Linked DNA regions of Homo sapiens. The protein of the gene in region 2 purifies or fractionates together with the protein of the main gene of each other region. This does not show direct contact. Each region holds a gene or a part of one and is shown on either strand. Other genes may lie near its edges. The genes, in order: KANSL2 and PPIL2.

What was found.
Region 1: the proteins of PPIL2 (region 2) and KANSL2 purify together in Homo sapiens (affinity purification with mass spectrometry; one large-scale study listed by BioGRID and IntAct). This does not show direct contact.

The regions. Positions count from the first base shown.
Region 1 is NC_000012.12:48,657,992-48,661,804, forward strand, and holds part of KANSL2 (KAT8 regulatory NSL complex subunit 2), read right to left. Parts: intron 2,629-3,813; coding exon 2,375-2,628; intron 1-2,374. UniProt on the Homo sapiens protein: Non-catalytic component of the NSL histone acetyltransferase complex, a multiprotein complex that mediates histone H4 acetylation at 'Lys-5'- and 'Lys-8' (H4K5ac and H4K8ac) at transcription start sites and promotes transcription initiation.
Region 2 is NC_000022.11:21,686,471-21,690,283, reverse strand, and holds part of PPIL2 (RING-type E3 ubiquitin-protein ligase PPIL2), read right to left. Parts: intron 3,802-3,813; coding exon 3,726-3,801; intron 3,393-3,725; coding exon 3,286-3,392; intron 2,642-3,285; coding exon 2,552-2,641; intron 2,212-2,551; coding exon 2,178-2,211; intron 1,553-2,177; coding exon 1,435-1,552; intron 1-1,434. UniProt on the Homo sapiens protein: Has a ubiquitin-protein ligase activity acting as an E3 ubiquitin protein ligase or as an ubiquitin-ubiquitin ligase promoting elongation of ubiquitin chains on substrates.

The DNA.
Region 1 (3,813 bases), on a different chromosome or scaffold from region 2:
AGGCCAAGGTGGGCGAAACACTTGAGGCCAGGAGCTTGAGACCAGCCTGGCCAACATGGTGAAACCCTGTCTCTACTAAAAATACAAAAATTAGCCAAGCACAGTGGGGCGCACCTGTAATCCCAACTACTCGGAAGGCTTAGACCGGAGAATCGCTTGAACCCAGGAGGCAGACAGTGCAGTGAGCCGAGATCACGCCAATGCACTCCAGCCTAGGTGACAGAGCGAGACTCTGTCAAAAATAATAATGACTAGCTTGGAATTATTTAAACACTGAATCAAAAGGCATCTAAATCTCAAGATAATAATGGAATGTGTATGTTTTCAGAAAAGGCTTTTCTCATATATACAAAGGGTTGTCTTTTATAAGATTTTAAACTGGGAAAAGGATCCTAAAATAAGAAAATCAGCAAAAATGCCTATTAAAACAGGAGTGTTTTAAAAATTGAAGTATCAGGATATAAAGAGAATCCATGTTTTCAGCTGGGCGCGATGTCTCATGTCTATAATCTCAGCACTTTGGGGAAGCTGAGGGGAGTGGATCACCTGAGGTTAGGAGATCGAGACCAGCCTGGCCAACATGGCGAAACCCCATCTCTACTAAAAAATACAAAAATTAGCCAGACATGGTGGCACACACCTGTAATCCCAGCTACTCGGGAGGCAGGAACAGGAGAATTGCTTGAACCCAGATGGTGAAGGTTGCAGTGAGCCGAGATCGTGCCACTGCACTCCAGTCTGGGCGACAGACCAAGACTCCGTCTCAAAAAATAAATAAAGATAAAATAAGAGAATCCACGTTTTGTTACTATCTCCAAAACCAGCAATAGAGAATGAGAGAGAAGGAACTCAAAAGTAGTAAGATTAAGGTGTTAAGTTACTACTTGCCAACCATCCTTGCATCAAAGCACAGAAAACAAGCAAATATCCAGAATGAACGGCTGTGTTTTTACTCATATTAATATCTGATGCCTAGTCTTCCCGCAAGTAAAATCACCAAAGTTATCATTAACAGTTATACGCCAGGAATGGTGAATCATGCCTATAATCCCAGCACTTTGGGAGGCCAAGGTGGGTGGGTCACTTGAGGCCAGGAGTTAGAGACCAGCCTGGCCAACATGGTGAAACCCTGTCTCTACAAAAAATACAAAAATCAGCAAGGCCTGCTGGCGCACACCTGTAGTCCCAGCTACCCAGGAGGGTGAAGCACAAGAATCACTTGAACCCTGAAGGCAGAGGCTGCAGTGAGCTGAGATCACATCACTGCACTCCAGCTTGAACAACAGAACAAGACTCAGTCTAAAAAAAAAAAAGCCAAGTTATAGTGGCCAGGCACAGTGGTTCACACTTGTAATCCCAGCACTTTGGGAGGCCAAGGTAAGAGGATCACTTGAGGCCAAGGTAAGAGGATCACTTGAGCCTAGGAGTTGAAGACCAGCCCATGCAACATAGGGAGATCTCATCTATACAAAAAATAAAAAATTGGCTGGGCATGGTGGCATAAACCTATAGTCCCAGCTACTTGGGAGGCTGAGACAGGAGGATCACTTAAGCCCAGGAGTTCGAGGCTGCACGGAGCCATGATCATGCCACTGCACTCCAGCCTGAGCAACAGAGCAAGACCCCAATTTAAAAAAAAAAAAGTTATAAAAATGATAACTAAGCTGGGCGTGGTGGCTCATGCCACCGACAGAAACTCTGTCTCAAAAGTTCTTAACAGTATATTCCTTAATAGCCAGAAAGTAGAAACAGCACAAATATCCATCAACTGATATATTTTTAAAGCGTGGTATTTCCAAACAATGGAATATTAATTCAGTCACAAAAAGGAATGAAGTATTGATACATATTATAGTATGGATAAACCTTGAAAACATTATGCTAAGTGAAACAAGCAAGACACAAAAGGATACATATACTATTACATTGATATGAAATGTCCAGAATAAGCAAAATCAGAGACAAAAAGTAGATTCATCGTGGCCAGGGGCTGAGGGGAGAAGAAAATGAAGAGTGTCATAATAGGTACTGAGTTTCTTTTGGAGATGGTGAAAACCTTCTGAAATTAGATAGTGGTGGTAGTTGCGTAACTTTGCGAATATACTAAAAATCACTCAATTATACACTTTCAAAGAGTGCAATTTATAGTATGTAAATTGTATCCCTAAAAAGGTATGGGAAGAGTCTGGAAAAAAATATAAGGTAGGGTAGATTTCTCTAAATGAATATGCTAACATATAAATACAACTATACGTATATATCACTTCAAAAACTTTGTCGATTCTCCTAACCACAAAGACTAACCTATTCTCACCATTAATAAATAAGGCTTTGTCTCAAGGGCCTGAACCAAAGCAGAGCTTCTCTAACTTACATCACTGAACTCCAGAGGTAAACTCTCAGTGGGCTGAAGCTCAGCAGCACTCAAGTACAGATCCATGGGGCCGGCTTCCAGATCGTCTGGCACAGACAGTACCTGCTCGGGCTTATACATCTGAGGAGGCAACTGGAAATGCAGTGGGCAGCAGGGATCCTCAGAGAGGCTTACAGGAACAGGTTTGTTGCAGGGTACCTCTTCAGATCCCTGGCAGCACTTGAAGAGAACCTGATTCGTATCCTGACAAATATCTGTAGAAAAATGGTCAAGGGAAATAAAACACAATCTATCGAAAGCATAAAATACAAATAGCATTGTCTGCCACATAAAACTCAAGGTGTGGACTATATAAGATAAATTACAACTACATTTGATACAGAATACCAAATGCAGTTAGCAATTTTTAAAGTTACTTCTCAAAATAAATGTCATTTACTAGCATCAAATTCTAGCTCTACCAGTAATTTAAAACTTGTCCCCAACCTCCTTTTCAGGATCCTGGTCATTTAAACTAGACACCATCCCATTCTCCCTTAAGCAAGTAGCAGTAACACTCCTAGGAACACACACATATTCAGAAGAAACATGTAGTGGCAAATGCAAATAGCCTTGAAAATGCCCCTAAACAGCCCTTCCAAAAGAGTCAAGCGATACAATGTCTCTGCTCCCTTAGCAGACTGGCAAAGTTTGCAACAATTTCTTGGACCTCGTTTCCAAAGATGATTACATGATAAATTCATTTAAAGCACCACTGGAATAGGGGGAAACAGAGCTCTAGTAAAAGTCACTAGGTATCATATCCTAACAAGAAATTAAATATACATGCCTTTTTTTTTTAGGGGAGTGTGCTAGTACAGAGGAATCCTTTTATGATCCTAAAGGAAGAAGAAAATTTTGTGTATGAAGGCCCATTGAAAAAAAAAAGTATTCTAGAAACATTCCAAGGACTCTATTAACAACTTTTGTTAAAGGTAGAAGAAGAAAAGGGCTATATTTCCAAGTTAGCAAAGAAGCTCTGTAGGATGAACCAAAATTGAGATGATTAGATACAATAAAATTCAAGTTACTTTACAAAACACATTTTATGCAAGTGCTACCATTTCTTGAAATCTGTTAACTACCTGGTTATCTTCCTAGATTAATAAACATTATTTTAAAATTTGACTTATTTTTAACCAGAAAACACAATTTTTCTTAAACTGATAGTACCTGAATTATGGAGTTATAATTTTCAACTCAAAACTTTTATGGTAATTTTTTTAAATAAAAAAACTAACATACATTATAATTTTTAAAACCATATGAACTTCCTTGAATAAAGCTATTTCTTTCAATGCATACTTGGAAATAACTAAACTCTCAAGCAGGGTGTGACAACTGTGGCACTACCAACACTGTAGGCCAGGTACATCTTTGTTGGAAGAAGGATGTATAGC
Region 2 (3,813 bases):
CCCTCCCAAGCAGCTGGGACTACAGGCGCACGCCACCATGCCCCGCTAATTTTTTTTATTTTTTGTAGAGATCGGGTTTTGCCATGTTGCCCAGGCTGCTCTCGAATTCCTGGGCTCAGGCAATCCACCTACCTCAGCCTCCCAAAGTGCTGGGATTACAGGTGTGAGCCACCACGCCTGGCCATCCCTGTGATTTTAACCATTCCAGGCCACAAAGCCACAGCCAGCCCTGCTCGTAACATGCAGGGGCCACACCTGTCACAGCAAAACCTGCTGGAGCCAGTCCACACAACCGAGACCACGTGTGACAGTGAGCTGGCAGAAGGCCACGGCGAAGCCACGACAGGCCAGGGTTCACCCCAGAATGCCACGGAGACACCCATCCACTCTGGCCTTGTAGTGGCCACATCCACAAATCCCGGGAGGACCAGAAAAAGGACAGAATCATCATAGTAGATGCTAACAAAGAAACCTCTAAAAAGTCAGCCACCCTCCTAAAAACAGCCCAACAACAAATGTTCTGAGAAGGCAAAACAGCGATTTCTGTGGAGCACAGCAAGATGCCCACATCCTCCTCCCCCATCAGGCCCACGGTGACGTGACGGTGACGTGACTGATGTGCACACCAGGGAAGCAGAGAGCAGACCAGCTTTTGGTGATAAGCGTGACTATCTAGAAAACCCAAAAAAATCTTAAAAACTTTTGAATTATAAGATAATTTGTTAAAGTGGCTAGATATAAAATGAACGGTAGTTTTTCTCTACATGAGCAATGATCCCCAAAAGTTGGGAAAAAAAAAGTCCATTTACAAAAGTATCATAAACTATAAAAAATCCTTAAGAGGTTGCTTTATCCCGGAAGTCACAGGACCCATGTGAAGAAAACGATTGAAAGACTGAAACATAACATCAGGCCACTGTCTGGGGATGGAAAGGGCACCTCTGTTCTTCCACAATACAGGCATCCGGCCCCTGTGTGCATGGCCCTGCTGGCCCCCCATCCCCTGCCTCCTGCCACCAGACTGCACACTGCTCCCCACATGCACCAGGGCCAGACCTCCTGTGTCTCTCCAGGCGCCTCTCCCTGTGCAGCCTGTGCCCTGCACAACCCCTCCCACACGCTGACCTCCCCCAGCACTGCCTGGCCACAGGCACCCACACGAATGCCTGGTCCCTGTCAAGAAGCCCTTCTGGACCTCCAGTAATTCCCGACTTCTGGTCTCTCGAGGACACACCCGGTGCGGGCAGCTCTCCCTGCTGACTCACTCTGGGGACCCCCTTTTGAACGCAGGTGCACATGCTTGGCCTAGGTGTGCCGTACACCGTCTGGGTATGATTCAGAACCAGCACACCCTTCAGAGAGGGCCAAGAGGAAGAACCCGCAGAGAGTGCCGGCTCACCTCCCAGGCCACCCCAGCAAGCCCAGCTGACTCACAATTGAGACCTGTTGCTGTTGGGCCCGGAGTTGGCCATGCTGAGGATGCCGCGGCCCGTGTGCGAGAGGTTGGGCCGGAACTCGTCTTTGAAGGGCTTCCCCCAGTATGACTCCCCACCTGGAAGAGAAAGGCCCATGGGAGCAGGAAAGCCTGGGCCCCAGCCGAGGCAGAACTAGAAACCTCAGAGTCCCGAGGGGCATCAGGGCCTTGCTGAGCCCAGCCTGGGGCAGGGGCACTTGATAGGGAGGCTCCCAGCCCCACGCCACCAACTCCTGGGTCCCTTGGAGCCCCCACGCCTCCAAACAGGCAGGCTGCTGCCCACTCACCCCAGCCCCGCCTGGGGCCTGCCCCGGGACAGGGATTAAAGAGTCAAGGCCACCATCATCATCACTCAAGCTATGGGAATACAGAGGTTGGGGGATCTGGACCCAAGCAGCTGCCAGGCTGAGGGGCTTGGAGAGGCTGCAGGAGGGAGGGCTGGCCTCAGTCTGAGGCAGACCCCAGGGGCCCAGGGAAGAGACCACACACTCTTGCCTCCTCTACCATGCAGGCCTCACAGCCACCTGGAAATGAGAAAACTGAGGGCCAGGCCTGAGGGGGCACAGCACTGATGGCTGCCAGTCGTTCCACCCTGGTCTAGCAGATTCCATGTCTGAGCTGTGCACAACCCCTGCCCAGCTACCCCCTCATGCCCCACGGAGCAGCCAAAGTGCCCAGAGAGGGGCCCAGCACCAGTACCTACCCGTGCCTGTGCCTGTGGGGTCGCCCCCTTGGATCTGTGAAAACAAAAGCCAGTGAGCAAGTCACACTCTGAGACCCGAGGCCCACCGCCTGCCTGACTGAAGGACACCCCTCCTGCCAGATGGCTCCACACAGGGGCTGGGCTCTTGGTGATAATGAGGGGCCCTCCCAGCCACCTCCCTTTGTGAACCCAGTTCTGGATGGGCTGGGGCCTCAAGGGTCAGTCTATGGGTTCCCCAACAGAGGATCACCAACTGGACTCATCCTGGCCACCGTGGGATGGGCCAGGGCCCTGGGATGGGGCAGGGACAAGCCCACCCAGCCCCCGATGTCCCACCAAGCTCATCTGTGCAGCCAGTGACTCTCGTCACTCACCACAAAGTTCCGGATGGATCTGTGGAAGATGGTGCCATCGTAATAATGCTTCTTGCAAAGCCTGATGAAGTTTTCGCAGGTTTTTGGTGTCTGCAACATAGCCCCAATACTTGTATGAAGCAGAGAGCTGCCAAAGGCAGCTCACCACAGCCACAGGAGGCTTTTTTTTTTTTTTTTTTTTTGAGGTGGAGTCTTGCTGTTGCCCAGGCTGGAGTGCTGTGGCGCGATCTTGGCTCACTGCAACCTCCGCCTCCTAGGTTCAAGACATTCTCCTGCCTCAGCCTCCCGAGTAGCCAGGACTACAGGCATGCGCCACCATGCCTGGCTAATTTTTGTAGTTTTAGTAGAGACGGGTTTCCCCATGTTGGCCAGGCTGGTCTTTAACATGTAGCAGAGTCAGCTGCCCAGCCACACTGGGCACGGATGGACCCACAACATTAAGCAACAGGACCCGTGCAGCCGCACGGCCCAGAGTACAGCGCATGGGAGAAGTGTGGGCAGAGCAGCAGGTGCGGCTTGGCCCCTTCTCTGAGACACTGGCACCTGTGCGCAGGCCATGCTGCCAACGCGGCCCCCTAGGAAGGACACAGGGCACTGCTGCGGGTCCCGCCTAGTGACAGGCTGAATTTCCTACAACAAGCACATACCAGTGGCAGCCCTATATTTAAGACATGGCTGTCAGATGACCCAGAGATGACCTTGGGGCATGGGGAGTGGCTGGCCTCCACACCCACCAGGTCGCAGTGCAGCTCCAGGTTGAGGTCGCCCTTGTTGGTGTGCAGCCGCACGTAGCCCTTCTTCTTCACAAACTGGTAGCGCAGCACATCCTCGTCGATGGCAGCTACAAGCCAAGGTCCCAGCTCAGCCCCTGCCCTCACCCTGGGGCAGCCCCACCATGCCAGGCAGCACCGACCTCAGACACACAGGCGGGGACTAGGCTCCAGCTCTGGGGAGAGCAGGGGAGCTGGAGGCCGAGGGTCTGCTTAGGCCACGCACAGGCTCACCCCAGCCTCATGGGGCTGGCAGGGGTTCAGCAGCTAAGAGGGGGAGGACTAGGGGCTCAGGTGACAGTGGGAGCCCCTGACAGACCAATAAAGTGGGAGTCGGGGAGCACACCCACCCCCTGCCACTTTTGGGTCACATGGCAGGTGGCTACAGAGGCCAAGGTGGCTACCTGCTTCATGTGTGGTCTCCGGGACCATCGCGGTGGAGGTGAAGGAAGCGCTGACCTTCCCTGTGGAATAGTGGGCCTGCCAAGGAAA